Regions from separate parts of the Homo sapiens genome. Here all the other regions are linked to region 2. Evidence: fine-mapped expression QTL. A gene starts in region 2. Each other region holds a variant in brackets. All regions are shown on one strand. Distances are from middle to middle. Region 1 overlaps ZNF469 (zinc finger protein 469). Region 2 holds the start of ZNF469 (zinc finger protein 469). Region 3 has its middle 56 kb from the start of ZNF469. Region 4 has its middle 52 kb from the start of LINC02182. Region 5 has its middle 82 kb from the start of LINC02182. Region 6 overlaps BANP (BTG3 associated nuclear protein).

What was found. PIP is the estimated chance that this variant, and not a neighbour inherited with it, causes the effect. A credible set is the group of variants that fine-mapping cannot tell apart.
Region 1: its variant is the best candidate, but not a certain one, in a credible set for the expression of ZNF469 in whole blood (TOPMed, PIP 0.72).
Region 3: its variant is the best candidate, but not a certain one, in a credible set for the expression of ZNF469 in tibial artery (GTEx, PIP 0.88).
Region 4: its variant is the best candidate, but not a certain one, in a credible set for the expression of ZNF469 in whole blood (TOPMed, PIP 0.63).
Region 5: its variant is the best candidate, but not a certain one, in a credible set for the expression of ZNF469 in whole blood (TOPMed, PIP 0.90).
Region 6: its variant is the best candidate, but not a certain one, in a credible set for the expression of ZNF469 in whole blood (INTERVAL, PIP 0.71).

What each region holds. Positions count from the first base shown.
Region 1 is chr16:88,415,946-88,421,016 of GRCh38, forward strand. All of the region lies in intron 1 of ZNF469 (zinc finger protein 469), which reads left to right. Among named protein-coding and RNA genes, the nearest start is that of ZFPM1, 35 kb to the right of the region's middle. The variant T/C (reference allele first, on the strand shown) is at 2,653.
Region 2 is chr16:88,380,220-88,385,290 of GRCh38, forward strand. It overlaps ZNF469 (zinc finger protein 469), which reads left to right and starts at 2,740. Exons shown (of 3, transcript NM_001367624.2): 1 at 2,740-3,035. RefSeq lists enhancers at 467-1,011, 1,556-2,099.
Region 3 is chr16:88,323,985-88,329,055 of GRCh38, forward strand. It overlaps a transcript of ZNF469 not described here. Among named protein-coding and RNA genes, the nearest start is that of ZNF469, 56 kb to the right of the region's middle. The variant A/G (reference allele first, on the strand shown) is at 2,211.
Region 4 is chr16:88,139,760-88,144,830 of GRCh38, forward strand. It overlaps a transcript of ZNF469 not described here. Among named protein-coding and RNA genes, the nearest start is that of LINC02182, 52 kb to the right of the region's middle. The variant A/G (reference allele first, on the strand shown) is at 2,322.
Region 5 is chr16:88,273,406-88,278,476 of GRCh38, forward strand. It overlaps a transcript of ZNF469 not described here. Among named protein-coding and RNA genes, the nearest start is that of LINC02182, 82 kb to the left of the region's middle. RefSeq lists an enhancer at 1,249-2,054. The variant C/G (reference allele first, on the strand shown) is at 2,961.
Region 6 is chr16:88,023,196-88,028,266 of GRCh38, forward strand. It overlaps BANP (BTG3 associated nuclear protein), which reads left to right. Exons shown (of 14, transcript NM_001386991.1): 8 at 4,288-4,455. Among named protein-coding and RNA genes, the nearest start is that of BANP, 74 kb to the left of the region's middle. RefSeq lists a silencer at 1,422-1,668 and an enhancer at 3,945-4,515. The variant C/T (reference allele first, on the strand shown) is at 2,196.

The DNA.
Region 1 (5,071 bases), 36 kb after region 2:
TGCAGAGCCAGAGTGCGGACACCCCATCCCCACCCAGCTCCCACCCCGGGCACTTCACTAATCCTCTCGTCCTTAGGAGGCAAAATTATAATCACTTTTAATTGAAAAAGGAGGCTGATATGATTCCGAACCCCACAGCAGCGGGAGAGTAATTAACGCAGCCACCAGGCGTCGCAGAAACCCATTAATCATGTCACTCAGGAGACAGCTCATTAAACCTCGGCTGGGGCAGTGGGAGGACCAGGTGACCCCCATGTAGGCCTCATCGGTCCCGGTTTCTCATGCAGAGACCTCACTCGAGGTGGGATGGGCTCCGTTCCCAAAAACCAGAGGCCGTGACCTTCTCAGGAGGCCACTTGACGGCACAGGGGAATCCAGGTGGCTGCTCGAAGTTCACTTACGCTATTGCTGCCCGGGCGTCCTCATCTGTGAGATGGGCCTGCTGGGGCTTCCCCACGCTGGAAGACAGACGACACCCAGGCCTCCCGTCCTACCTCCCACCCAGACCAGCTTCACACTGTCACACGTTGTGATCTTAGTGGTGTGTGACTTCGGCAGGATCTCCAAGGCAAGCTCTGGGCCTAGCCGGAAGCTTCTGACCCAGAGAGTCTGGGTAGGCCCCAGAAAAGACCACTGAAAGAAGCCACTTCAGACGCCACCACCATTACCGTGAGAAATTGCACGCAGGGCTTCATTGGGAAAGAGTAATGGAAAATAACTAGGGTTTCTAGCATCAACAAGCAGTCACGTGGTGATTGGTTGTTTTAGGGGAGGGATGGTAACAACCTTGCCCACAAAATCAAAACCCCGCAGGACCACGCACCCTTCGCCCTTCCAGGGCTCCCTCCACGGGACCCAGCCTGCAGAAGGGTCCTGCAGGAAGTGGCACGCTCGCTCCCCGGGAGGGGTACCCAGGGCTCCTCTTGGGGGACCAGAGCCTGAGCAGGGGCCTGTCCTGCGGTCGGCGTCTACCCCAGGGCCTGGGACTGTCAGGTCAAGGTCAGCCACCCACACACTCAGGGCGTCCTCCTGGGGTCCCGTGGAGTCTCCGTGGTACTCGGCTTCCTTCTCGCTGTGACAGGGTGAGGGCTGACAGCTCCAAGAGAAAGGCAGACTTGGGCACCGCCTGCCCTTTTCCAGAGCTGCTGCTTGGCACATGGAGGACTGTTTGTCTGCTGGGCCTCCCCCAGGAGGCCGAGAGCAAGGCCCCCACCCACCCTGCCCAGAGCGTCGCTGCAAGGGAGCTCAAAGCCAGGGGCGAAAGAGCCCAGGCTCCGCCACTGTGTGGCCTGGGGCAGGCCCACACCCTTTCTGAGCCACTGTTCCCATCTGTGAAGTGGGCACACTGACCGAGTCACCCTCAACGATCCTCATTCTAGAAATCCAAGGCAGGGCTGCTCGACCGGCCAATGAGAGAAAGGCACCCCCGTCTTTGGATTTTAAAGTGGGTTCTGGGGCTGTGGGCACCGTTGCCCATTCTAACCACCTGCCACCTCCACACCCTGGACGAGCCGTCTCAGCCTTGGGATACCCGCCTGGCTGTATTCACCTTGGCTCTGCTAGAAGGTTCCTGGGGCCAATGAATCCCAATCCAGTCCCCGCAAGCCAGATGCCTGGCGGGGCGGCCCCCAAACGTTTCTCGCTCCCCGCACATGGTCCCTCTTCCTACACCCTTTGGGCAGGGGAGAAGGACCCTCAGACAAATGTGCTGATGGAGGCAGCTGGCGTTTGCTGGGCTCCGGTACAGCATTGACATTTAGAGGGTAGGCTGTGTCTCCAAAGTCATTTCTGGACAGCATGCTACAGTTGCACCTCCACCTCCCAGTGCCGGGGAGCTCTCAGAGTCTCCTATAGAAATGAGGCCCCAAAGCCCCCCATGGCCTGGCAGGGGAGTGTGCGTGAGCCCACGTGTGCATGGGCATGTGTGGATGTATGCACGTATGAGCATGTGCTCACGCGTGTGCATGGATGAGCATGCATAACTGCACACACCTGTATATGTGTGCATGAGTGTGTCCACGTGTGTGCTCACAGGGAAGGCCTGTCCCCACCCTGCAGCCCACCCGAATTGGTCCCTCACCCTAACCTAGAGCCCCAGGTTCAAGGAGCAGCTCCTGGAGACCCCAGGAATAACAGCTGCCCCAGCTGGACTCTACCCGGGCTCCTGAGCACCAACTCCCTGCCAGGCCCAGGATGGGGGCAAGCAGAAGACCTGCGGCCCCAACCGGTGTGATGCCGGCAGTGAGGACAGGGGACAGTACAGCAGCAAATGGACACCATCTACAGAGCCGGGACCAACAGCAACAGCTCTGTGGTCAGGGAGGGCTTCCTGGAGGAGGTGGCATTGGAGCTAAAGCTGAAGGCCCATCTCGGTGAGGCCGTGGAGGGTTGTCTAGGAGACTGAGCAGAGCTGGGTTGGGGCCTGGCCACTGATGAGGTCCTGGTGTCCTTCTGGGTAATGACCCCCTGAATATTGGCCTTTGTGGCACAGAGGGGCAGAGGAGAGGGGGGCTGCCGTTCTTGCCTGCCTCTTGCCATGTGCCAGCTCTCAGCAATTTCAGTGGGTGGCAGGGCTCCGTCTTTAAGCACAAATCCCCACCGCCCCCCCGGCCACCTCCCTGTCATTTTCGAAGACATCATTTTCTTTCCCCA[T/C]GTGCCCCCTTATCTCCCTCCTGTTAAAGGATCTCGAATAGGCACCCCGATAAGACAGGACGAACACCATTCCCCAGCCCCTCCAATGCCGGCCTCCACTTTCCCCCAAAGTAATTAAGATAAATGCAGCTGATAATTTGCGCCGTATTCTTAAACTTACCCTCCGGGCCATATCTCAGATATAATTTTACCTGCAAAGGTTTATCTGAGCACTCAGGTAACAGATAGTTTTTAAGCAAAGCGGCAGCGTTTGAAGCAAAAGGAAAGGAGAATGTTTGTGAAATAAATGTCAGGAGGCAGCAGCGCTGCAGCCCCGTACGGCGAGGACTACAGACGGGAGGCCCCTGTGCTTTTCTCCTGGGCTGCTCGGCTCCACCAGGGTTTGGGGTGAGCCTGGCCGCCTGCCCAAGTTGTGAATGGGGCCGGATGGGTGTGATGGGCAGACACGATGCTCAGGATGAAGGCCGGGGCACAGCCGAACTCCTCCCTTTTCCCAGCCTTGCTGTCTCGGGTGACCTGGGACCGGAGGCTGCTGCCCAGCGGTGCTGGCACACATGGCATCTGGCTTTGTGCTCCACACCCATCGGGGAGAGGCTAGCTGGCTTCAGGGGCCGTGCCAAGCCACGGAAGGGGGGTCAGACAGCAGGGGACGGTGCCCAGGGTGACACAGCTCGGACAGGATCAGCCCTGGTGGGCAGCCAGAGGCCGGAGGGAACCGACAGACTGGACCGAGCTGGTCCGAGGACGGGCCGGTGCCTCCCAAACAGACCGGGAGAGCTCAGCACGGGAGGCCAACATCCTGACCCCGGCTCTGCTCCCCAGACTTGCCATGTGACCTTGGGCAGGTTCTGTGAGCCTCAGTTTCCCCCATTCGGCCTGGAAGCCCAGCTGCTCTTCCCAGCCCGGTCCCACCCCATGGCACATATTTCTTGGCCCTTGTGTGGTGTCCAGGGTGGGACAGGTGGGGCCCTGGGATTGGGTGTGGACAGCCTCCCTAACCCCCGGCAGCCTCCCACTCCCTGCCCCTGAAGCCCATGCTGGTCCCACCCCTTGAAGCGCCGTCTGCCCCCTCAATAGCACTCCACCCCTCCTCAACGTTCCTCCAACAGCCAGGAATGCCCCCAACGCCATGCCTGAGAGACCCTCACCCAAGGCCAAGCCTCGGCTGAAGAGTCACATCATCAGAGCAGCCGCTCAGGTCACCCAGAAGGCCCCATGTCCCCACTCTTCTCTCTCAGGCCAGGGCCTTGGAGCTGGGATTGAGCCAGGCAGGACTCGGGGGCCTGTGGGGCTCACGCAATGCCCTCCTCTGCCAAAGGGAGGAAGGCACAGAGAGGGGTGGAGGCCGGCCTGAGGCCACACAGCACACAGTAGCAGACCCTGGCTGCAGGTGGGGGCCAGATCCCAACTGCAGGTTCAGCTCTCAGCCATGCTGTCCTTCCCCAGTGCCATGTCTGGAAAGCGGGGCCACACGCAGGTTCCATGTGTGGGGAAGACAGGGCACATGCACCAGGCCCCACTCCCACACCGGGACGAGGGAAGAAAGGGCAGTTCTCCCGCAGCTCCCCCTCGCCTGGAACCCCACGCTTTCCGCTCTCCCCACAGAGGGGCTGAGGAGAAAGGGAGAGCCAGTCCCTGCTGTTTGGGAAGGCACGGGCCAGCCCTGACGACAGCAGAAACAACCAGGAGAATGAAGCCTACCCCACACCAGGGATGGATGCAGCTGAAAGGGCTGGGACCGTTCACAAGGAGGAGGAGCAGGTTGCTTAGGATGCCTGGCTGCAAGTGGGACTGCGTGAGCGTTGATATCAGGGTGTCACAGACAGGCCCAAGGACCCATCAGATCCAACCTCCATTTACAGTTGGTGAAACTGAGGCCAGGAGGCCCAATTGGACAGTGGCACTCCAGTTGGGCAGTGCAGCCGAGTGTGCAGGGCTCCCAGGCCTGGTCCCCAGGGGATGGCCACCAGGATGTGGAACGACAGGCGCCCTTTGAGAATTGCAGGATCATGGAGACACGCCCGAGGAGTTCACACCACACGCAATCCAGGAGGGCTTCCTGGAAGAGGGATGCCATGCTTCTGAGCAAACGTCTGCTAGGCACTCACTGCGTGCTGGTTTGTGTGCTCCATGAGGTGGCTTGCGTTGTTCTGTTTAACCCTCTGACCACACCCTGTGAGGTCAAGACTCTGATCATCCCCATTTCACAGGTGGGAAAACGGGCTCAGAGAGGCTGGGACGGGGCTTGGATCCCACAGTCAAGGAGTGCGGGATCTGAGAGTCAAGCCCAGGTGGGGCTGGCCCCAAAGCCCCCTGTGTGGTTGGCCAGGAGTGAGTGGGGGTCGGGAGGAAGGGAAACGGGAGGGGCAACCCAATCCGAGGGATCTTCTCCAGCAGAGGCCCCAGGAGGGGCTGGGAA
Region 2 (5,071 bases):
CACTCACAGACATGCACTCACACACAAATGCACTCACACACGTGCACTCACACACCCAGACATGCACACACACACACGCACTAAAACACAGACATGCACTCACACATGCACTCACACATGCGCTCACACACATGCGCTCACACACAGACATGCACTCACACGCACTCACAGACACGCCCTCACACAGACATGCACTCACACAGATGCATTCACACATACACAGTCACACACAGACATGCACACACACATGCACTCACACATACGTGCACACACACATGCACTCACACAGACATGCACACACACGCACTAACACACACGCACTAACACAGACATGCACTCACACACAGACGCCCTCACACAGACATGCACTCACACACATGCACTCACACACGCACACACCCAGACATGCGCTCACACACATGCACTCATACACACACAGACACGCCCTCACACAAGACATGCATTCACACACATGCACTCACACTCAGACATGCACTCATACACACACAGACATGCACTCACACACAGACATGCACTCACAGACGTCCTCACACACATGCACTCACACACATGCACTCACACATGCACACACACCCAGACACACACACACACGCACTCACACAGACATGCACTCACATGCACTCACACACAGTCATGCCCTCACCCAGACATGCACTCACACACACTCACAGACATGCACTCACACAGACACGCACTCACACACAGACACGCCCTCACACACAGACATGCACTCACACATATGCACTCACACAGACATGCACTCACACACATGCGCTCACAGACATGCACTCACACACATGCACTCACACAGACACGCTCTCACACACAGGCATGCACTCACACACGCACTCACACACCCGGACATGCACTCGCACACACGCACACACAGACATGCACTCACACACACACTCACACACAGACACGCCCTCACACACAGACATGCACTCACACACATGCATTCACAGACACACACACAGACATGCACTCACACACGCACTCACAGACATGCACTCACACGCACTCACACAGACATGCACTCACACACACGCACTCACACACATGCACTCATGCACTCACACACAGAGACATGCACTCGCACACAGACACACACTTATACACACATGCACTCACACACAGAGACATGCATTCACACACACGCACTCACACACAGACATGCACTCTCTCACACACACACACGGGTTTGGAAATTGAAGTCTTTCTTAGAAACAAGAACAGACCCAGTAGAAACGAGAAGGAAGGAAACGCCCTCTGGGGTCTTTGTCCACAGCCAGGGGACCCCTGGCCCTTGAAACTTTAGGAAACCCGCTTGATTGAAATCCTGATTAACTCGAGAGGGTTTCTTAGTTCTTCCCCATTTTCCATGGAAAGGGAGATCCCAGGACCTGGAGGCCCCAGATGATGCCATGGAAATGTGAGCCAAGCCTCGAGCCTCTGGGGCCTTTCAGCCCCTGCCCCTTTTTCAATTCACGTTTTCGCGTCCACTGGCAGGAATGCCATGTGCTGCGATGCCAGCACAGAAACCCCACTGCCATGTGCAGTTCCTTTTAGTTTATTCTATACCGTTCGCAGAGTCCCAAAACAGCTTCAGGAGGCAGACCAGATTGGGGGAGGGGCAGGCCCACTCATTGGCTCCACCAGAAGGCCCGTGGTTAGGCCACACCTTGCTTTACATAATAAAGGTGTCCTTAAAAGGGTGTGCAACTTGAACTTGCGTAAGTAAAGCGTGCTTGACCTGCTCCCGGGGGACCTTTGTCTGAAGGACTAATTCTGAAAGCATTCCTTTCTGCGAAGTCCCCCCACTGCCACCCTATTTCTTAGAAGTCCACCAAGTTCATGACTTGGGATCCTCTGAAGTGGGGGAGGGCGATCCGTCCCCAGATGCTGCCCGTAACGCTGCACCCCTGCCCTTGGAGGAGGCCCACACGCCCCTGTCTGGGACAGCCGGGGACGGGCACGTACTGGGCCAGGGGGCTCTGCCTGGAGCCATCTCCGCCGTGTGGCCTTGGGCAGGTTCCTTGTCTTCTTCAGGCCTTGGTTTCCTTGGCTGTGAATGGAGATGTTGGACAAATGACCGGTAAGGGCCTCTCCCTCTCTAGGGGCCTGGATGGCTCCTAGCGCCCCACCAGCAATGCTGCCGAACTCACGGGCCAGTCTGGGGCAGTCCCAGGGCTGGACAAGGGACCCAGAGTGGAGACACGAAGGTCTGGGGGCAATGTTAGCTCCCACCTATGAGAAAGCGTGCCATGGGGACCTCCTTATGGTGCCTTCGAGGGCCAACTTGAGCCACTCAAACCGAACTTGCCCAGGCAGGTGCCAGGTGCCAGTCGGGACATCCCCCACCTCCTAGACAGAAGCACAGGGACAAGCGTGTCATGTGTGGGCACCTGGGGAGCTGGAGCGCAGGCCAGGGATGGAGATAGAGCAGCCACTGGAAGCCACATGGGTAGCATTATGGCAGACGTTTTTTAAGTTGTGCTGAATGCAGCGTTTCCGTCTCAGCAGCAAGGCCTGCCATTCTGGGGTGGGCTGGCTGGGGAGTGTGAAGAGGGGGTTCAGGGAGCAATGCCTCAGGGCCCCCCATCGCCGGGGTGGGTCCCATGAAACAAACACCTAGGAAAAGCGGCGCTAAAAATAGCTGGGGGGAGGGTGCGGGGGCGGCGGAGTCTGTAACCTAAGCCGCCCCAGCCTCCGGGGGGCAGACCCCGCGGCCGCCGGCCGGCGTCCGGCCTTCCCAGCACCCGGCCCAGGGCTGGAGCTGGCTGCAGGGCTGGCCCGCGGCGACCTGGGCAGGGTGGCGGCTGCTCCCTCTCCTCCCACCCCGCCCCGAGGCGCAGCGCGCGGCAGAGCGGCTCGGTGCCCGGCGGGCGGGCGGCCCGGGCGGGCCTGCGGTCGGGATGAGGACGGCGCCTCCGCTGCAGAGCGCTGGGGCGGCGCGGGCCGGGAGCTCGTTGGCGGCGGCCGGCGTGGCGGGCGGAGCGGGCCTCGGAGCGGAGGTGAGTGCGGATGCGCCGCCTGGGCGCGCGCGGTGCCTGGGGACCCCGGGCTGGAACGCGGGGCGGGGGTGTCACCGGGCTGCGCGGGGGTCTCCGGCCCGGCTCCCGCTCCTGCGCCCTCGGGGGCCGCTCCCCGGCGGGGCCGGACCCTCCCAGCGCTCGCGGCGCCCGGCCCGGCTCCCCCGACCTCCTCCTCCCGGGCCCGGACGTGCGGGGCAGCGAGCGCCGGGGCCCGGCGGGGGCCGCAGCCTTGCCCGGAGCGGAGCGTTGGCAGCGCGGGGTCCGGCTCCGTGGGCAGTTTGGGAAGCGCCCGGGCAACGTACTGGCGAGGGCCGCGGAGCGAGGGGCTCGGGGAGCGGGACCTCCGGGCGGGGCTGCGGGGAGCGGGGCCCGGGCCGCCCCATTCATCGCGGATCGGAGCCGGGGGTGCCCCAGCCGTGCCGCCGCCTCCTCCGGGCCGCCCGCCCGGGCGTGCTGGCCCCGCGGCGCTCCGAGCGCGGCATAGGCTTGCGAGTCGGCGGTGTCAGCGCCCCGGACGGGGGTGGGAGCTTTGGAGCCCACCCTGGGGGAGACCACGCCGCACCCCCGCCCAGCCCCGCGCACCCCCAGAGGCTTTTGCAGAGCCGGGAAGTTGGCTGGACGTCTAGACCCGTGGGGACGCGGCGCCCCGCGTGGCGGCGGCCGGAAGGGAAGGCCAATGGGGCTCGGGGGACTCCCGCGGCCACCCAGTCCTTGTCCCTGCACCCTGGGCCGAGGGCAGAGGGACAGGTCCCCGGCGGGGGCGGGGGGGCAGCTCAGCTGCCAAGTCCGCTCCTGCAGCGGAGGCGGTTAACTGCTTCATCCCCAGCCGTGAGCCATGCTGGGCATAGGGAGTGTGCCACGTGTTATCACGTTTAATCCTTACGTCCTGAGATCCGTGTTAACCCAAGTCTTAGATGCAGAAACTGATGGTCAGAGTGGGCTGATGCTGGGAAGTGAGCACAGCACGCGGTAGTGTCGTGGACAGCCCCTGCCCATTCTGCCAAGAGCAAGTCTAGTTCCCTTCTGCCGGTCGGGTGGACAAAGGTGTCTTGAGGCCCTCTCAGTGCCCAGCCTGTCCTAGGTGCCCCCAGCACAGCCCACAGCCCTGCATTCCTGAAAATAAACAAAATAAACAGGTAAATGCCTGGACAGCGTCGGGCGTGAGGGCTGAGCAGGGAGCTCGGAAGCTGGGGCGGAGCTGCAGTTTTAGGAAGGGCAGCCAGGCACCCTCGGAGGAGGTGGCCTGGGAGACGTGTCTTCCATGCCATGCGCCTGGCAGGTCCCAGACCACAGGACAGAGCTCACCGGGAGGTGATCATTCTGCCCTGCAAATAGAAAAGAGGAAGAGGATATCTGAGGCAAAAAGGAAGGCCAGGGCCTTCTCAAAGGGAACCCAGGGGCCCCGCAGAGTCTCAGCTTGGGAGGCACAGGTGAAGGGTGTGTGGCTGTAATGCCCCGAGGCTGGCAGCTCTGGGCAGTGTGCAAACCAGGAAGTCCCAGGATTTCAGGGTCAAGGGAAATTTTGGGGTCATGAACTTCAACCCCCTCATCAGCGCTTCAGTCTCCACCAGACCCTGCCTCCAGGTTACTGACTCTGCTTGGATACCTCCAGTGACCGGGAACTCACTCCCCATCACAGCAGCCTGTTCCAGCCATTCCTGCAGTCCTACCAGCTGGAATGCACTGGTCCATCATCCTGAGGCAGCAGGCAGCACATCTGCTCAGCTGTTACACATGGCTGCCTTTGGATAATTTTAATAGGGATGGTCTCCCCCTGTATGCCTAATCTCTTCAGGTCATTTCTGACTTGACATTCCTGGTCAGGCCCCATCCTGCCACCTTCCCCTGGGAGAAATTCAGTGGGTTTCTGCCCTTTCCTCGTGTTTGCTGAACGGAAGTAAACCTGAACACCAGGGTGGCCTGGAAGCAGAGATGCCCTCCCCTCCTTTCTCCTGGAGTCTTGTCACCACCGATAGTGCCCTAGATATCAGGCCATGGTGGACTCATCTGGAGCC
Region 3 (5,071 bases), 56 kb before region 2:
TTATTTTGCTCACAAATCAATGGTTGTCAGGGCCTGCGGGCAGCAGCTCACCTCAGTGACACAGGCTTCAGCTGGAGCAGCTGGGCTGGGGTGAGATCCGCCGCAAAAATGGCACACCACATGGCTGGCCAGGGGCCTGTGGTCAGCGCCTCCCCACGGGGCCTGTTCGGGGCTACTTGGGCTTCCTCACAGCATGAGGGCTGGGTCCCAAGAGGCAGGAAGTAGAGGCTGTCAGTTTCGGACCGCCAGCCCTGAAATTTTCTGAGCAATACTTCTGCAGCATTCTGTTTTGGCCAAGAAGTAAAAAGGTCCAGATTCAAAGGCAGAGACGCAGACCCCCACACACACCCCTTATGGGAGGTGGGTGGAAGGATGTGGGGGGCTGTTGTGTCACAGCTGTGCCGTCTGGGATGTTGACCTCCCCAGAGCTCTCAGGTGTGAACACACGTGTGGCCAGGCCTCAGTGCTGTCCTCTCCTATGGCTGTGATGCAGAGAGTCCCAGAACCAGGGCTCAGCCCGGGAGGGTTCTTGGCTTCACTCAGGAAAGAATTTGAAAGCCAGCTGGTGGTGGAAGGCAGGTTTACTTAAGCGGCCGTGTACAGAGAGTTGCTGCTCCTTGCAGAGCAGGGCTAACCCACAGGGAGTGCGCCAGGGTGAGTGCATAAGGGACTGTAGCTGTTTTTATACCCACTTTTAAGTATGTGCGAATTAAGGGGAAGGTTATTCAGAAATCTCTAGAAAGGGGGCGGCACCTTCCAGATGTTGCCATTGCGTTTGTAAACTGTCATGGTGCCGGTGGGTGTGTCTTATGCTGATGGGCAGAGGGGGCAGCTGGAGGAAGCTGTGTTAGTCTGTTCTTGCACTGCTATAGAGAAATACTTGATACTGGGCAATTTATAAAGAAAAGAGGGTTGGCTCACAGTTCTGTAGGCCGTACAGGAAGCATGGTAGCTTCTGCTTCTGGGGAGGCCTCAGGAAACTTACAGTCATGGTGGAAGGTGAAGGGGGATCCAGCACTTCAGCCAGTGGGAGCAGGAGGAAAAGAGAGAGGGAGGAGGTGCCCTTGGGAAATATCCTTCCAGCAGCTTCTGGTTGAGATCACATCCAGCTGCGGCATACTCAGGGTCTCAAGTCCTCACCTGCACACTCCAGGTGGTCCCGACAGCAGCTGCGACATACACAGGGCCTCAAGTCCTCACCTGCACACTCCAGGTGGTCGCGACAGCAGCTGTGACATACACAGGGCCTCAAGTCCTCACCGGCACACTCCAGGTGGTCCCTACAGGCTCCGTAAGCTGCCCGAGGTGCACCCCGGGGGGCCGCAGGGGCTCAGACCCAGGACACCCACCAGACTGCACAATTGGTGGCCAGCTTCTGGGGCAACCATCAGGGTCACAGTGGGAGAGGCACAATTTCCACCCAGAGCATCACTCTTCCCAATTCATGCCTGAAGGCGGGGCAGCCGCTGAGTACCCTGCCCAGGGGACCCGGAGGACACAGGTCAGTGATAGGCGTGGCCCCACCACTGCAGCCAGGGGCACTATGTGTGGTGGCGCCAAGCCCAGCATGGCCAGAAATGACACTGATACCCACACCAGGACACAGTGTCCCAGGGTGGTAGAGCTGGAAGGGCCTCTGCCACTTAGGGCTCCTGGTCCCATCCCTCATGCAATTTGTGGCCTGTGAGACCCCCTAAGGGAAAGTGACTTGTTCAATGTCACCCCAAAAGTCTGCAGTGGGGCCAGGACAGACAGGGCCTTGCCACTCAAATGCTCCGTGTGACGGCTACCCTGGTCCTTCCTTCCCCTCTTTCTCCTTCCTTCCTCCCTTTCCTCCTTCCTTTCTTCCACGCATCCCAGATGGGGCTGCAGGGCAGAAGGATCGGTGCTCTGCCCCCTTAGACCTGAAGGACGCCACTTCCTCTCTAGCCTCAGCTTCCTCAGCTGTACACTGTGAGCAATAGAGCTAACAACACCTGTCAGTCAGTCCAGGGGTGGCCACTGTGCCTGTGATTGCGCCCCCTCCCCACTCCCAGCCAGTGTGATCCTGTAGGCAGAGAGGAGGGGCTGCCAACCCAGAGGCCCCAGCAATGGGCCACAGACATGTCCTGGTCTCAGAGCCTTTGTGATATGGTTTGGCTGTGTCCCCACCCAAATCTCATCTTGAATTCCCACATGTTGTGGGAGGGGACCCAGTGGGAGGTAATTGA[A/G]TTACGGGGGTGGCTCTTTCCATGCTGTTCTCGTGATAGTGAATAAGCCTCATGAGATCTGATGGTTTTAAAAATGAGAGTTTCTCTGCACAAACTCATTCTTTTTGCCTGCTGCCATCCATTTAAGAAGTGACCTGCTCCTCCTTACCTTCTGCCATGATTGTGAGGTCTCCCCAGCCACGTGGAACTGTAAGTCCATTAAACCTCTTTCTTTTGTAAGTTGCCCAATCTCAGGTATGTCTTTATCAGCAGCATGAAAATGGTCTAATACACTTCGAGACACTCTCCAGGGACTGCAGCTTCTGCTGCTCCTGGGCCTCGGGGACATCCAGAACCACTTTATTAAAGCACCCAAGGCCCAGGGCAGTGACACTGCTGGGCAGGACACCGCATGTTTCCCAGGGACCACCCTCCAGCCACCTCACATGGAGGTCAGGACCAGAGTGCCTGACGCAGGCACTCACATGGAGGCCTCGGGTTTGGGGTGTTTGCTTTAACGTCACTGACTCATGGGACCCCCGCTGTGAAAGCACCTTAGAGACCTTCCAGAACAATCCCAGATCAGAGGGTGACACCCAGGCCTTCCCTGGCCAGGGCAGCACTCGGGCCGGTCCTGACCCCCCCGCTCTTTCCTGACTCAGCCATGGCTGCCTTGTCTGCACTTCATTTTCTTGAAAACTGGGCAGAGTACCCAATGCCCACCTGGCAGCGGGGCCCAGGAGCAGCACCCCCACCTCTCTCGGCCTGTGTCCCTGTCTCCCTCCCCGTCGCTCTCCCTCCTGTCTGTCTGTCTTTGGTTTGAGCTGTCTCCTGGGTCAGGGCGGCCCCGCCTCTCTGATGGGCGGAGGGTCCTGATGTCCTTGGTCTGTCCTCAGCATCTGCTGTGGGACCTCAGGAGAAGCGCCACTCTGGACCCCAGGAGTGGGGCCATCCCCCATCCCAAATAGTGTCCCTCGTACTGGCACAAGGTCCAGGCCCCGGGTGGCCGCCTCTCCAGAGCCTGTGGGACCCTGTGGCCTGCACCACTGGGGCTTCTCACACCAGCCCCTGCCTCCCCGGCACTGGTTCTCTGGGTCTGCCTCTCCATCCACTCAGCCTCACGCCAGCCCCCGCCTCGCCACGCTGGTCCTCCCGGCCTCGCCTCTCCTTTGTGCAGCACCCCTGCCACCTGGCTTTGGTAGATGCACCTTCACCTGCTTCCCTGGACGAGGTGGGCTGCAGGCCACATCCTGTGAAGCGGGTAGGCAGCCCCATCCCAGGGCGTAAGCATGGTGTGGGTGCTGAAATGTTCTCATCTGCGGTTCCCAGGGCCAGCTAGGGGCCAGGCCTGTGCCATCCTCAACATATCACGTTGGGGTTGGGGGGGGGTCTGTGCTCACGGTGGGCTGCGTCACCGGCAGCAGGACAGGGCACGTGCTCCGTACCTCAGGGCTGAGTGCTTCCAGGGCCACCTCCTTGTTCCTCCCTCCTCTCCGCTCCTCCACCGCCCTCTCCCCTCCCACCTTCCGTGCACACTCACTGAGCACTGACAGGGCAGCCTGGGCTCCATGCTTAGACCCCGCACCACAGGTGTCATCCGGAAGGAGCTGGAGAGGCCGCAGTGTGGTCGGAGCTGACTAGGCCCGGCTGCTTGAGAAAACCGGCCGGATCCCGAGTTCAGCTGGGGCCCACACACCCACCGGAAACACACCCAGCAGAGCAGAAACCAGAAACGTGAGATTGTCTACCAGAAACACTTTCACGGCCGGGCTCCATCACGGCTGCACACCCACCTGCTGTCCCAGCCAATGGGGAATGCACGACCCATGCTGCTGCCCAGGCAGGAGAGCAGCAGCTCCCGGCACACACGGCGACTCCCACAGACACAGAAGGGCACACGCCATGGGAGCCACGGTCCTAAAGCTGGGATGAGGTCGAGGAATCCGCAGGTCCCAGGGAAGGAGGAGCTGCCGAGTCTGTGCTTCTCGCCCGGGGCTGCTGTGCAGGCAGACGCACGCTATGTCATGGGCCAGGCCGGACACTTCAGTCTTGGTGCTTTCTGCACGTGTACTGTATTCTGCCTTAAAGGTGTATTTAAAATGCCTGTAGAGGAACAAAATTCTCACTCTGCTGCTGACTGTGTGACCTTGGCTGAACCATATGACGGCTCCCAGCCTGCACTTCCTTACCTGTGTGATGGGAATGATAGCAGTGCCTTCTTCACAACCTCCAGGGAGGTTCCCCAGGAAAACGCCATGGCAGTTCTCAGCCGGGGCCTGGCCGCATGGCTACCGTCGAAGCTCTGCTGCTGGACCTGAAACGCCACGGCCCCAGTGCAAGACACCATCAGTGTGTGCTCTGTGGGGAAGCTGATCCGATGCACCTGGCCTGACATGGATCTTTGTGGGGTCCAGGGCCCGGGTTCTTCTCCAACGCACTGATCTCCTCCATCCCTGGCTCCCAAAATGCACCAGACAAGGAAAACCAGAAGAAATCAGATACAACCCTCAAGCGTTCCAGCCGGGGGGCTGGGATGTGCACACACAGCTGAGTGCAATGGGAGAGGGTGCGGTGTGAGCAACAGAGGCGCCCAGTCTAGGGAGGGCTGCTTCCCACACAGTGAGCACCACACAGGAACCAGAGAGGATTCCAGGTGTCCAGAGAAAACAGCTGGGGCAGGCGGGTGGGGGAGACGCAGTTTGGCCACAGCAGAGGAGGCCGAGGAGGAAGCGGAGGAGGCCGAGGAGGGAGCAGAGTCAAACCGAATCAGCAAGAAGGGTCAGGGCCCTAAATGTTCTCCACGGGGTCCCGACGTTCACCCGCAGCCGGAGTCCTTCAAAGAAAACCCAGAGACCACCTGCCTCCATATTTCCTGCAGTTTT
Region 4 (5,071 bases), 240 kb before region 2:
GAAAGAAGTTTCCCATAAGAAATAGAATCTCCAGACCTTCTCGACACCTGAGTCTGGTGACTGCATGGTTAGCACAGCACAGAATCCCTAAGACGGAAATTCACAGAACCCCAGGCCAGAGGATCTGGTAAATGAGGACATTTCCTCAGCCCAGCATTCGTGAGACAGTCTCCAAACAACAGCATCAACAACAAAAGATACACAAAATAACTCCTACCGAGTTTGAGCTCCAATAAACAGCCACAGGAAGAAACGAACTGTCAGGATCAAGTGCAGTGAACACAGAATCAGCACTGTGCAGACAGGGAATAATTGAACAGCAGGAAATACATGTGTTTATCTAAAATTATTTAATACAAAAGAGGGAGTCATAATGAAAGTCCAGAGCAAGAGAAATGGATTTGGCATTGAAGTGGCAGAACCGATTTAAATGAAAAATATAGTCATAAAAAAAAACTTTGGCTATATTAAATGGAAGCTGTAAGAGAGCTGGTAAGAAAAGTGGCCGGGGAAATACAATACGGAGGAATAAATATTTGGAAAGGAAGACAGAGCCATTTAGAAATCGGAGGGTAGCACGGAGGAAAGGAGGACGGAGCCACGTAGAAATCGGGGGGTAGCACGGAGGAAAGGAGGACGGAGCCGTGTAGAAATCGGGGGGTAGCACGGAGGAAAGGAGGACGGAGCCACGTAGAAATCGGGGGGTAGCACGGAAAGTCAGTGACAACACTGATTTACAAATGAGCAGGCAGAACGTGAGAGACGCGATGTTCAAAGATCCTGCAGAAAAGCCGGGGGCCTTGCCCTTCTAGTTACCAAAATATACTCTAAAACTGTGTTAATCCAGGAGGAATTTCAGTATAGAAACAGGTAAGTGGATTTTAAATTGAGGCCAGGCGCAGTGGCTCAGGCCTGTAATCCCAGCACTTTGGGAAGCCGAGGTGGGTGGATCATTTGAGGTCAGGAGTTCGAGACCAGCCTGGCCAACATGGCGAAACCCCACCTCTACTAAAAAATACAAAAGTTAGCCGGGCGTGGTGGCGGGCGCCTATAATCCCTGCTACCTGGGAGGCTGAGGCAGGAGAGTCGCTTGAACCCAGGAGGCGGAGGTTGCAGTGAGCTGAGATCATGCCATTGCACTGCAGCCTGGGTGACAGAAGGAGACTCTGTCTCAAAAAAACAAACAAACAAAAAAACAAAAAAATCAAGTCTAGCGTATGGCCCTTTACAAGAGAATTTAATGTAGGAAATTGGTCACGTTTGAAAGAGAGGAAAGAATCATTCAGAGGCATCGTTGGGCCAATGAATCCACCATCTGGAAAAACAAAGTTAGAACCCCACCTTACGGACACAATAAATTCTGTGCAGATAAATCCGCTAAATTGCAAAAAAAGTATAAAAGTATTAGTAGAAAAATAGAATAGTTGTATAATTCTGGTGGAGGAAAAGACTTTCTACCCCAAATTCTAATCCCAAAAAGGACAAGATGGACGTCTTCAGTTACATAAGAAGTTAAAGCAGTTGTGTAACAAAAGACACCAAAACCAGTGTTAGAAGACAAGAGTCGGACTAGGAAAGAAACATGCAGCCCGGGAAAGACGCCCTGGGAGGTACCCCCGTCCTGGTCCCCGGAGCCTGCTATGAAATGCTCAGCCTGGGAAAGAGGCCCTGGGAGGTACCCCCGTCCTGGTCCCCGGAGCCTGCTATGAAACGCTCAGCCTGGGAAAGAGGTCCTGGGAGGCACCCCCGTCCTGGTCCCCGGAGCCTGCTATGAAACGCTCAGCCTGGGAAAGAGGTCCTGGGAGGCACCCCCGTCCTGGTCCCCGGAGCCTGCTGTGTGCCTCTCCCACGGCAGTAGGGCCTGTGCAGATGGGACTGAGCGAGAGGCCTCCAGGTGGGGACCATCCTGGTCATCTGGGTGGCCCAAGGTCATCACGGGCATCCTTGTAGGAGGGAGGCGGGAGGCCAGGGGCAGGAGGGTCAGCAGCAGGCAGTGGCAATGGCAGCAGAGGTCGTGGTGACGTCAGAGGCACCATGAGCCCAGGAACACAGAAGCCTCTGGAAGCCAGAAAAGGCAGGAAAGGGATTCTTCCCTGCGCCTCCAGAAGGGACCAGCCCTGCCGACACCTTGATTTCAGCTCCGTGAGAGCCGGTTGGGCTTCTGACCGCCAGAGCTGTGGGAGAATGCATTCGTGTTGTTTCAGCCATAAGTCTGTGGGCCATTTGTGACTGCAGCCGCAGGAGGCTACGCAGACAGGCTCATGTGTGCAGATCTGAGCTGAGCTCGAGATGCCTGATGCAGATGATAGGAAATAGTCCAC[A/G]GCGGCCAGGATCTCAACAGGCTTCCAGGGGAACAACACAGCGATGTCCAAGGGTGCGTCCAGGGTGAAACTGCAGGGCCACGTTCAGCACAGGGAAGCAGAGAAAGAAGGTGAGAATAAATCAGCTGTCCTTCCTGCAAGACCCGGCTGGGCGGGGGGTCTGGGAAAGGCTGCCCTGGGAGGGTGAGCAGGTTCCCTGGGCTCTCAGCCACAGCCCTGCCCTGCTTTGCTAGGTCAGGCGAAGGCACCTGACCTTCACCTCCTGGCCCTGGCCCTGCCATCCAGGCTGGGCAGATGATGTTGGCGGGCCAGAATCCTGCGAGGGTTATCCTGAGGCTCGAAAGTGGAAATAGATGGGAGGGACCTTGAAAAGCTCAGAGTGATGCCTAAGCGGGTCCTTATCAACAGCCCAGTGTGAGCCTCAAGCACTGAACTCCAGCCTCAGGACTGAGAAGGTCCTTATCAACAGCACAGACCTCAGCGTGAGCCTCAAGTCTCAGGAGCTTGAAGAATGGCTTCTGTTTACTGAGCACACGTGATGTGCCAGGTGTGGCCCTGGGGCTCGAACTCTATTGCCTGGTCTATAAAGCACATGTCACCACCCTGTTTTACAGAGGAGGAAACTGAGGCTTGGGGAGGCTCATCAGCTCACCCTGCGGGGAGTCGGCCGGCAGCAGCTGCGTCGCTGTGGATCCCACCCGAGGGTCCCTGATGTGGGTCACACCTGTGTGCTGGCTTTAATCCCCAGCCCCACCTGGATGTGCAGCCTGGGGCCAGCATGGCCCACAAGGGTGGGACGGATGGCATCGTCACCCTCCACGCACAGGGGCCTGAGAGCACAGGGCCCCTCAGGGAGAGCCCCTGCGGCAGAATCAGAGTCTCAGGAATAAAGACAAGCAGAGGTCTCAGTTTCTCTGCCTGAAAACTGGGGGTGGCAATCCCCACCTCACCGGCCTGTGATTAGGATGGGAGGAGACAGGCTGAGATGGGGCCCCAGGCACTTCACCGACACCCGGTGAGCACTCACCGAATCCTCACCTGGAGAAGCCCTGGGGGGGTGGGGGGCTCAGCGGCCCTGCCCACGGAATGCCCACCTGGAGCTTCTTCAGTCATGGCATCAGGGGCAAGTGCTTGATCGTTTTGTGCCTCAGTTTCCCCCTGTGTCAATGGAGATTTCAGCAGTTCCAACCTGTTCAACACCATGAAGATGGAATAGGTTAGCGTGCTTAACGCACTCAGGGCCGTCTCCAGCCTTAAGGAGGCACCACTCAGAGCGGGGTGGAGCGCCTAGCGGGGTGGGGTGCAGAGCGGGCTGGGGCGCCGAGCAGGGTGGGGCACCGAGGCTGTGTTCCTTGTTGCTGGGGGGATACAGATGCCCCCCCACTCCTTCCCCCTAAGACGCAACCACCAGCCTGGAACTGGAAGTGGGGATCACCCCCACCTTCGGGCCTCTGCTCCCCCCATGCGTGGCCCATGGCCATGCGTCTCCCTGCAGCAGGAGAAGAAAGCCAGGAGGTGGCCCAGGCCCAGGGCTGACATGTGTCAGACACGGGTGAAAATGCTGCCTTTGTGTCTGACGTCTGTCTCTTGCTGTTAAATGATGACAGCTTGTCAGAAACATCACACACGTTTGCTCTAATTAAGGGAACGTTGTGAACAAGTCGCAGCCTTGCGGGGAGCGGTCCCGGCTGGATGTGTCCTCTGATCGGCCCCTGCCTGTGTCCTCCCAGGCCATGCACTGGCTCTGTGTCTCCTGCATCTTCACTTGTCTGCCTGGCTGGCGGCCAGCGGCACCAGACCAAGGACCCGCCGCTATTTCCCTGTGTTCGCTGCCTTCCTCTTCGCAAGGACACCGAGAGCCCCTGGCTCTGGGCCTCCCATCTGCCCTTCCTCCCGCCCATCGTCAGCGTTTACGAGGGTCTGCCACGTGCCAGGCGCAGGGGAAACGGCGCAGGGTCAGAGGCAGAACCCGCCTGCTGGGGAGACAGGAGTGGGGAGTGGCCTCACACCCCAGAGGAGGGGATGGAAGAGGTACGCCCGGGGCCGTCCCGGAGCAGGGCAGAGGCTTGGTCCAGCCTGTGGCAGTGAGCAGCCGGTGGGACAGAGGCCACAACAAGGCCAAAGGCGTGGTGGGGAGGGCGGGGGGCGTCTCTCTGGTCCCGGCAGAGCTGCCAGTCCCTACTACGTCTGTTTGTTGATTGGGTCACGTTTAACTTCGGGAACCATGCACAGTGTTGGCCAGGAGATGCCATAACCAGAATAAAACAGGACTCTGCCTGGCGTCAACGTAGCTGTCTCATGTCCTTTCAGGAGGTAGGGCAGAGATAAGGGGATGGTGTGATTAACGCCAGCTGCCTCTGCCCTGGTGGAGAGGACGGAGGACATCACGTCCCTCCAGCCACCCCAGCCCGTGACACGTGACATTTAAAGATTTTTCTTGCTCTTTGAGGCACATTTTTCTATTTTCAAGGACAGATGAGGTCACAGACGCAGTGTGTGCTGCATTTGAAATGTTTTAGGCTAATTTTTGGCCTTTGATTCCAAAGCCTCTTTAAGACGTATGTTCTCTCTGTCATCACCCGTGTGGCCCAGCGAAATCCTGAACTCTAAGGAGAAGGCGAAGCTCTATCCTTGCTTTTCAGCCTCAGACAGTGAAGTGAGAAGTTCAACTTGTTGGGTTTTGTAGCTGTTTTCTCCTTGTTTGCTAGACGTGTCCATATTCTAGAGTCTCTTATCTTGGGAAGTTACAT
Region 5 (5,071 bases), 110 kb before region 2:
CTAATCATTGGGAAATGCAAATCAAAACCACACTGACATACCACCTCACGCCCATTAAGATAATTACCATAAAACACAAAGCTAAACCAGAAAATAACATGTGTTGGCAAGGACGTAGGGACACTGGAACCCTCCTGCAAGGTTGGTGGGAATGTAAATGGCACCGCATCTGTGGAAGACGGTATGGAAGTTCCTCAAAAAATTAAAACTATATCTGCTTTATGATTCAGCCACTTTTGTGTACATACCCAAATGAACTGAAAGCTGAGGTCCAAAGAAACATCCGCACACCCATGTTCACAGCAGCACTATTCACAACTGCTAAAAGGTGGAAGAAATTCAGTGTCCGTGGACAGGTGAATGGATACATACAATGTGGTGTATTCACACTGTGGAATATTTTTTTTTTTTTTTTTTGAGACGGAGTCTCGCTCTGTCGCCCAGGCTGGAGTGCAGTGGCGCGATCTCGGCTCACTGCAAGCTCCGCCTCCCGGGTTCACGCCATTCTCCTGCCTCAGCCTCCCGTGTAGCTGGACTACAGGCACCTGCCACCATGCTCGGCTAATTTTTTGTATTTTTAGTAGAGACGGGGTTTCACCATATCGGCCATGATGGTCTCGATCTCCTGACCTCGTGATCCGCCTGCCTCGGCCTCCCAAAGTGCTGGGATTACAGGCGTGAGCCACCGCGCCTGGCCAGAATATTTTTTATTCAGCCTTAAGAAACTCTGACACATGCTACTGCATGGACGGACCCTGAGGACATTCTGCTCAATGAAATAAGCCAGACACAAAAAGACAAAAACTGTCTAATACCCATGGTGTGAGGTCCCTAGAGCAGTGAGATTCACAGGGCTGGGAAGTTAGTCTTTAATGGAGACAGAGTTTCAGTTGGAAAGCTGAAGAGAGTTCTGTGGATGGTGGTGGTGATTGCACAATGCCGGAAACGTGTTTGATGCCACTGAACTGCTTACTCAGAAATGGCTAAAGTGGTAAATTTTATGTTATGTGTATTTTACCACAATAAAAGATAGAAATATAAGTCTCATAGACATGGTGTTGCATGAAGTCACATGCTTCTGGTGTGACCGCACCAATAGAAGTTTCACAACAGATCAGCCCACCCTCTGCCTTCAGAAGACAGGCTGGTGTCCGGGCGGGGCCCCCGGGGAGGGCAGGCCGTGTCCTGATTCTGGATCGGGCTCTGGTGACATGCGTGTGCTCTGTGTGAAAAGGCCGTGGGGGTGTGCTTGCTTGCTCATTTTTCTGTGTTTCTGTTATCCTTGGAAGAAGGTTTTAAAACTACAGAATTCAGTTCAATTCTGCTATTCAGTTATTAGAGTAAAGGACACTTCTTTCACCGTAGCTTCATGGAGGACTCGCCGTATTGCCTTAGCCCTCACTCATGGCCGTAGGATCCTGAGAACCTTCTCATGGACCTGACATGGTTCGCAGACGGACACTGGCAAACATTGCTTATGGGGCAGCACTGGCCCCCAGGCAACAGCCGAGCTGTTTTACAAACAGCGTATACACGCTTGGACACTCGCTCGCACACATGCCAACACTCTGATTTAAAAACTAAAAAGGAGCAAAGTTGCCTTAAAGACAGAGTGAGTGTGTGGGAGGGGGTTTCCGGGAAGCCTGGGTGTCCCCACCCCCATGTCTGTGGGCTGGAGAGATAGGGCACAAATGCTCCCACGAGCTCTGCAACCTGGAAACGATTAATTAATTAGACAGTGGAGACGGGAGCCTGCCGCGCATTTGGCCTCTGCAGGCAGCTGCTTTTTTATGTCTCGCTGACAGTCCGAACGATCCTACATAAAATGGGGAGGGGCCGGCGAGCACCTGGGGAGGCCGAACAGTGGATCCCAGCAAGCACAGCCACCATGCAAAGACCCCAGCCTCCGGTGCTCTGCACTTTTACATGTAAAACATCACCAGAGACAAGAAAACATGTCTTTGGAAGCTACCTGGGTTACTTGGAGTCATGGGTGCTGAGTTAGCTGGAGTTAGCTGGGGTGACGGGTGCTGAGGAAGGCACCAAGAATCCAGTGCTCCTGAGATCCCCTCAGAGCCACAGCTCCTGCCGCCACCCACCTTCCGGGGCGTTGATGGCGGGAGGGTGCCTGGAGTGGCTCGGGCCCTCACAGCATCCTTCCACCTCTGTCATCACCCTGAGAGGGAGGCGCGGCTTTCTCCTCATGACTAGAGTGGGTACACTGAGGCACTGAAAGACCAGGCTGGTGTCCAGGCTGCTGGCTCTGAATCCCATGCAGCTTCTAAACCGGTGTTTGTCACGAGCCTGATTTCCTCCTTCCCCCAAACCCCAAAGCCTCCCAGGACCCTGGTTAGGGAAGGAAGTGTGGGGCTGGCAGCGTGGTCCTGACTCTTGTTGCGGCATGGCGGAGGGGATAAGACCCCCCCAGGAGGCGGGGCACAGGGGAACAGGGGAAGGTGTCTCCCCAGCCCCTGGCTCACACAGCCCAAGTGAGACACAGAGTCCTGTAAGATGGAGACCAAGGGGCTGGAAAACACGGGAACAGGCCCATAAAGTGCAGAGTCCATCCTGGGAGGCCGTGGCAGCGACCCCGGCAGGACCACAGCGCTGCAGTCCTTCCCCCAGCATGATGCCGCCTGGCACCCTCCAACAGGCTCCACATGGGCCAGCAAGTGGACACCCCCTCTGGGGCACAGTGCAACGACCAAACAGAGTGATCCAGACTTAGATGCCATCCTGGGGGTGGGGGATGGGGTGAGAAAACGAGGCCCCTGCACAGGAGTCAAGGCCACAGAAAGCTGGATGGGCAGGTCCTGGGATGGCCAGGCCCCTGTGCGTGTAAGCGAGTGTGCTAAAACCATCCAAGCACACTCGCTGGATATGGAGTGGGGGTGCAGCAAGCAGGGGGGATTGGGAGGAAAGTCAGTGCATTTCAGACAAGCGCCATCAAGCTGGCCCCT[C/G]TCCTCCACGGGGCCTGGCAACTGCCCACCCTGGGGGGCTGCACCCTACTGGTTTCCCCAGCACCCCCGCCGAGCACCTCAGCCTAAATGTCTGTGTGTGATTTGCAGAGTCCTCCGGAGGCTGAGAGCAAACGGCTGCACTAGGAACCCAGCAGTCAGACCGGCCCCCACCCTGGAGTGAACACATCGCCACTGCCAGGCATCACAGGGGTAAGGAGCGGTTTTCTCTTCTCTTTAAAGCTTGATTTCGCGTCACGTCCTGCCTTTTTCCTTATGTTTATTGTCACGGGCTGTATCGCATGAAGACAGTGCACGAGTTAGTACTGGAATCATAGCAGTGCATGGGTCAGTGCTGCACCACGCTGACACTCAGTCAGGACCCTGTAGATGTCATTAGTGCCACCCTACGCTGACACTAGGTCAGTACCAGGTAGATATCATTAGTGCTGCGCCACGCCGACACTTGGTCAGTACTGTGTAGATATCATTAGTGCTGTGCCACGCTGACGCTCGGTCAGTACCATGTAGATATCATTAGTGCTGTGCCACACTTATGCTCAGTCAGTACCATGTAGATATCAGTGCGTGGTTAGTGCTGCGCCACGCCAACACTCGGTCAGTACCATGTAGATATCATTAGTGCTGTGCCACGCTGACGCTTGGTCAGTACCATGTATATATCATTAGTGTTGCACCACACTGATGCTCAGTCTGTACTGTGTAGATGTCAGTGCACGGTTAGTGCTGTGCCACGCTGACGCTTGGTCAGTACCGTGTAGATATCAGTGCACGGTTAGTGCTGCACCACACCGACGCTCAGTCAGTACCGTGTAGATATCAGTGCACGGTTAGTGCTGTGCCACACCGACGCTCAGTCAGTACCGTGTAGATATCAGTGCATGGTTAGTGCTGCGCCACGCCGACGCTCAGTCAGTACCATGTAGATATCAGTGCACGGTTAGTGCTGCACCACGCTGACGCTCAGTCAGTACCGTGTAGATATCATTAGTGCTGTGCCACGCTGACACTCGGTCAGTACCATGTAGATATCAGTGCACGGTTAGTGCTGCACCACACTGACGCTTGGTCAGTACCATGTAGATATCATTAGTGCTGTGCCACGCTGACACTCGGTCAGTACCGTGTAGATATCAGTGCACGGTTAGTGCTGCGCCACGCCGACACTCGGTCAGTACCGTGTAGATATCAGGGCACGGTTAGTGCTGCACCACGCTGATGCTCCGTCAGTACTGTGTAGATAGCAGTGCATGGTTAGTGCTGTGCCACGCTGACACTCAGTCAGTACCATGTAGATATCAGTGCACGGTTAGTGCTGCACCACACTGACGCTTGGTCAGTACCATGTAGATATCATTAGTGCTGTGCCACGCTGACACTCGGTCAGTACCGTGTAGATATCAGTGCACGGTTAGTGCTGCGTCACACCGACGCTCGGTCAGTACCATGTAGATATCAGTGCAGTTAGTGCTGTGCGACGCTGACGCTCAGTCAGTACCACGTAGATATCAGTGCACGGTTAGTGCTGTGCCACGCTGACACTTGGTCAGTACCGTGTAGATATCAGTGCACGGTTAGTGCTGCGCCACCCTGACACTCGGTCAGTACCTTGTAGATATCAGTGCACAGTTAGTGCTGTGCCACGCCGACGCTCGGTCAGTACCATGTAGATATCATTAGTGCTGTGCCACGCTGACACTCGGTCAGTACCATGTAGATATCAGTGCACAGTTAGTGCTGCACCACACTGACGCTTGGTCAGTACCATGTAGATATCATTAGTGCTGTGCCACGCTGACACTCGGTCAGTACCGTGTAGATATCAGTGCACGGTTAGTGCTGCGTCACACCGACGCTCGGTCAGTACCATGTAGATATCAGTGCAGTTAGTGCTGTGCGACGCTGACGCTCAGTCAGTACCACGTAGATATCAGTGCACGGTTAGTGCTGTGCCACGCTGACACTTGGTCAGTACCGTGTAGATATCAGTGCACGGTTAGTGCTGCGCCACCCTGACACTCGGTCAGTACCTTGTAGATATCAGTGCACAGTTAGTGCTGTGCCACGCCGACGCTCGGTCAGTACCATGTAGA
Region 6 (5,071 bases), 360 kb before region 2:
AGGCAGAAAAGTGAGCAGAGCCTCCTTCTCAGCAGGTCACCCAGAAGCTGTGACCTGGAGGTGGTCCTGCAGGTGGCTGTGAGGGGCTCTCTGGCTAACAGACTGAGGACAGGTGTCTCTCCATCATTTTTTCTCATAAAGGAGTGAGTCAGCAGGCTTGAAGAAGGTGGCCGGCTTGGCCTGGAGGCTGGACGTTTGAGGTGCATGGGGCGTGAGCTGTGTATGCTTCCCCCGGGAGGGAGCATGTCAGCTGGCTTCCATCGGGCAGAGGCCTTTTGTTTTTCTAGGCAGCGCTGTCACGTCGAGTCTGTAATTTGAAGAAATCAGTTGTTGGCACTCGGTTTTGTGGTGCCTTCCCTTGCACATGAGAGTGTGTTAGCAGGTGGGGCTCTTCATTCCTTTGTGACTGATAAAGCCCCATGCCACCCACCAAGGCACAAGATGACAAGCCCTCCTGGCTCTCTCATCTCGCTTCCCACAGTGCCTCTCATGGCCCCACAGATGGAGAGCTGGGAATCGGCTTATGATTTGAACCACCAGAGTCAGTAACGGGGGTTCTGGAAAGTGGGAAGGCAGCTAACGGTGTAGTGGAGACTCTTTAGCTCTTTGGGGACTGCAGAACAGCTCGCCAGGAAAATAGAGGCGTGCACTGTGGCAGGGATGCTGCCTGGCTGAGCCTGGAAGGCAATCCCGTCCCGGCCTTGAGGGGCCTCGGTTGGTGTAGTGTGGGGATATGGCTGGGGAAAGCAGGGACTGAGGCCAGACAGGGTGTTCTGCTCCCAGGTGACGCCACGCTGTGGGGATCCCGTGAGCCTCAGCAGCCGGATGCCGAGCACTTCTGTTCTCCTTGTGTCCTGGGCGCTGCTGCAGGGGAGACTTCTGCCTCGATTGAAGTCCGACTAGGCCTCCCAGAGCAGGGGCTGCAGGTGCCTTGGGCTGAGGGAGCTCAGGACAGCAGAGTCACGTGTGCGGGGCTGTGCGTGTTCTTCCCGTCTCCCCGAGCACCTCTCATGGGTTCTCAGGATCCAGTGAGGGCCGCTGCTTCTTCACCTGGTGGGCCCAGGAAGCTTGCACTTTAAGGCCGGTGCTCACTCCTAACTAGTAATTGGACTTGGACACATCACTTCTCCTTTTTCTGGCTTTTGCCTCAAAACCAAAGTGATGAGAGTAGTGACATTCCTACTTCATGAGGCTTTTAAAAAAAAATGTCTGTCAAATAACATGAGATCAAATGCTTAAAGTGGAAAATGGCAGTTAAATTCAAGGTGATCTTTTGATCCCATCATGATAGGATTTTTCCCGCTCCCTGTTAAGTGCGGCTGCTCAGTGCTGTCAGAAAAGGTAAAGGAATCCGAGCCCTGAGGGCTGCCCAGACGTGGGCGCTTGCCCCAGCTGCTGTCCAGTAGCATCTGCGGGCGGCGCCTGCACCCGTAAGTGCATGTTCAGATCCTCGCCCTCCTCACCCACTGCACTCTGCGGGCAGCACTTGGGCGGCTGGTCCGTTCTCTGGATCTCCTTTGTGGCCGGCAGGGGGCATTCGCCCAGGCTGGGGCCTGGAGCGCAGACGGAAGGAATTAGATAATTTGATGTCTGAGGACAATGGAAACTCGGTGGCGGGTAACCAGATGAATATATATTTTTTATTTAATAAGTGTGAGTCAGGGTTTGAACTGGCAACTTGATTTTTACAAAGTTGAATTTAAATGTGAATGTTTTCACCCATTTCTCTTACCTATACACCTGGGTGTTTTAGATTTATCTTCTTTCCTGTTACTAACCCGTTTTTAAATTTTGTATGGACTCATTCATCCTTCAAAGTCTATGGAATTTTTCTCCTGGAGTGTGAAGGTGGGAGGGTCACAGGAGGGCGGTTCTGAGGATGTTTCTTTTTATCGACTCGTGCTCCAAAGATGTTTTCCTGCTGGTGGGATGGCTGTTTCTTTCTTGCCCTCCCGGTGGCAGCAGCTGGGCTGCTTTGTATCTAAAATCAGTAGCTGGGCTCTCATGAAACTATTGAAGTGCAGTTTGAAAGCTGGGTTTTCCGGTAACTATGGTGCAACCTCTGGCAGCAGCTGGGCTCTCCTGTAAGGATTTCCTAGTGATTTTAATGGTTGGGTTCCCCCATGACCACAGCCAGCGGCTGGGTTCCTCTGTGAGTCACTAAAGTTGCTCAGCCTGGGGCTTCCTGAGGCGCC[C/T]GAGTCACCCAGCCAAGATTCGAGGGTGACTTGGAGTATTTTAGAGATGACCCGAAAATTGGAAGCCAAAGGGCGGCTGCTTCCTGTATGGCTTCTTTATGCATGAGGATGAAAATGTGCTGCCGAAACCACTTTAGGGTGTTCTTCCCTCTCATCCTACAAATCCCACCGTCCTGACTGGTTTCTTTTTGTCTGCAGCACAGACAGGTTGGTTGTGATTATACAGAGATTCTAAACGTGTCTCAAGTATCTACTGATAAGAAAGTCAAGAGGCATGTTTCCAAAACCCGAGGGACTTTTGATACCTAATCGAGTACTTAAAAAAACCCAAACACTTCTTCCTCTGTTTTAATTATTTCCACCATTTTAGTCTCAATGGGAACAGATTTTTAGGGTTTGGGCAGTAGAGTCCGAACTTGAGGCTCTTGGTAGTTGAAACGGGACACTTTTCAGCTTAATCTTTTTATTACTACAATTTTGGATTCCATCCATGTATTTTCCTGTAAATTAGTGAAGTTGCATGAGCCAGCTAGAGAGGCCACTGCATTGAAGAGCCCTTCCCATCATGCCCACATTCGTCATCGCTACAGGGATGGGGTCCTGTGGCCTAGTGGGAAGTGGCCGGGCGTGCAGTGGGGCGCTGGCTCCCTCCTGTCACCTGCTCCGCCGTGGCCTTCGGATCCTCAGTTTTCTCCCTGTTGAATACAGGGCATCTCTGGATGCTGCTCAGGGCGTGCTGAGAGCTCTCCGTAGCGCAGGTGGTAGAGAACTGGGGGTCCCAGGACAGTTCTCTGCGTGTGCACGGTGAGCCCCAGGAAGACGATGCACCTGGCTTTGGCCCCACAGTGAGAGTAGGTTGTGCCCACTCGGCTTGTGGTATAGGGACTCCAGGGATGAGGACACAGGCCCTGCCCGTAAGGAGTTTGTACTCTAGTTGAGAAGGCACGATAGAGAGGCGTCGGGAATGACATAAGCAAGCCCCGGACCTGAGCAGCGATGGGAGGGTGTCTTGCAGTCCGTTGTCATCACTATTTACACAGGAGCAGCCACTGTGCGCCAGAATGTTCTGGGTGCCTGACCCCCATGGGTGGACACAACAAAGGCCCCTGTGTTTATGAGGGGGACAGAGTAACAGTGCATACATGAATTCTCCAAACTGTGTTTGCGAGGGGAACAGAATAACAATACATGCGTGAATTCTCCAAACTGTGTTTACCAGGGGAACAGAGTAACAATACATACATGAATTCTCCAAACTGTGTTTGTGAGGGGGACAGAGTAACAATACATAACTTGAATTCTCCAAACTGTGTTTATGAGGGGGACAGAGTAACAAAAATACATACTTCAATTCTCCAAACCGTGTTTACCAGGGGAACAGAGTAACAATACATACATGAATTCTCCAAACTGTGTTTGCGAGGGGAACAGTAACAATACACACCTGAATTTTCGAAACTGTGTTTGTGAGGGGGACAGAGTAACAATACACACATGAATTCTCCAAATGCCGGAAGGTGGTCAGTGCTCTGACAAAACAAGTGGGAGGAGGGTGGGAGCCCAGGAGGGCGGGAGGGCCAGGTGGTTATCCAGGGGGATGGTGAAGCCAGGACATGAAGGAAGGGAAGGCGGTGGCCGAGCAGGCCCGAGTAGGCAGAGGACCAGCGAGTTCTGATCCAATTGTTGAGGTCCCTGATCTCACCCTCTGGGCATTCAGGACCTTGGGTGCTGCTGTGAGCTCAGGGCAGAGGGAAGTTGGGGCGTGGAAGGTCTGGGAATCTTGTGAGAGCCCCAAGTGTGCACCTGGTGTGGGCCGACCGAGTCAGAGGGATCGAGAAGTTAAGTAAATGGAAAGAGTGTGTCATGACACCTTAGTGAGCATTTATATCTCGTGGGGAGCCCCGCCTGTGGGCCAGCTAAGCACCTTCTGTGCAGTGGGCCTTTCCAGACCCTTGCAGGAAGACGGGGCCGGCCTGGCGGGCTGGGGTGCCTGGGTGAGGCCTCTTCAGCGGGCCCCGGCCCTGCAGCCAGGCAGCTCCTGGTGGCTGTCCCGAACAGGCCTCACCGCTTCTCCTTGGATGTGTCCTTCCAGGTCACCTTTTCTATAAATTTGGCATCACAGAATCCGACTGGTACCGAATCAAGCAGAGCATCGACTCCAAGTGCCGCACGGCGTGGCGGCGCAAGCAGCGGGGCCAGAGCCTGGCGGTCAAGAGCTTCTCGCGGAGAACGCCCAACTCGTCCTCCTACTGCCCTTCAGGTAGGCCTCGTGCTGCAGGAGAGGCCGCCCTCCCCCGCTCGGGGCAGCTGGCCTGGTGGCACCCTCAGGGGCAGCCAGTGCGTGGCCAGCGGCTCCACCAGTGGCCGGGAGCCGAGGCCAGAGGCTTGCGCGGTGCGCACGGAGCAGTGGAGCCGCAGGACCTGTGCCTGGCCCCGTGCGCCCTTCACACGGACAGCCTCGGGCCTGCTCCAGGCTCCTCCGTGAGGGACAGAGGGCCTGTTGGGCCTCCCGGAAGTCTTCTGGATGGGGGCAAGGAGGCCGAGGCCTTTGCGTGGGGCTGCCGGCCGTTGTATTCTCACGATTTGCCGGGTGACTCCGGGTGAAGAAGTGGGGTGGATTCTGAATTATGCTTTATTTTTGCTTTGAGTTCATGGCCTTAGTTGGATTTATCCACAAGATAATGGAAACAGTTCTCTTTGAGTTGCCTCTCAGGCATCGCTGGGGGGATTGTTCTCCTTGGAGAATTTTCACTAGGAATGACAATGTGACTTGATACTGCCTTTCACCCAAGACATCTCAAAATATTTTAGTAAGTATTTGAATGAAAACTATTCTCTTAAAGCTCCCCACAGTAGCTGCATTGGCAGCGACTCTT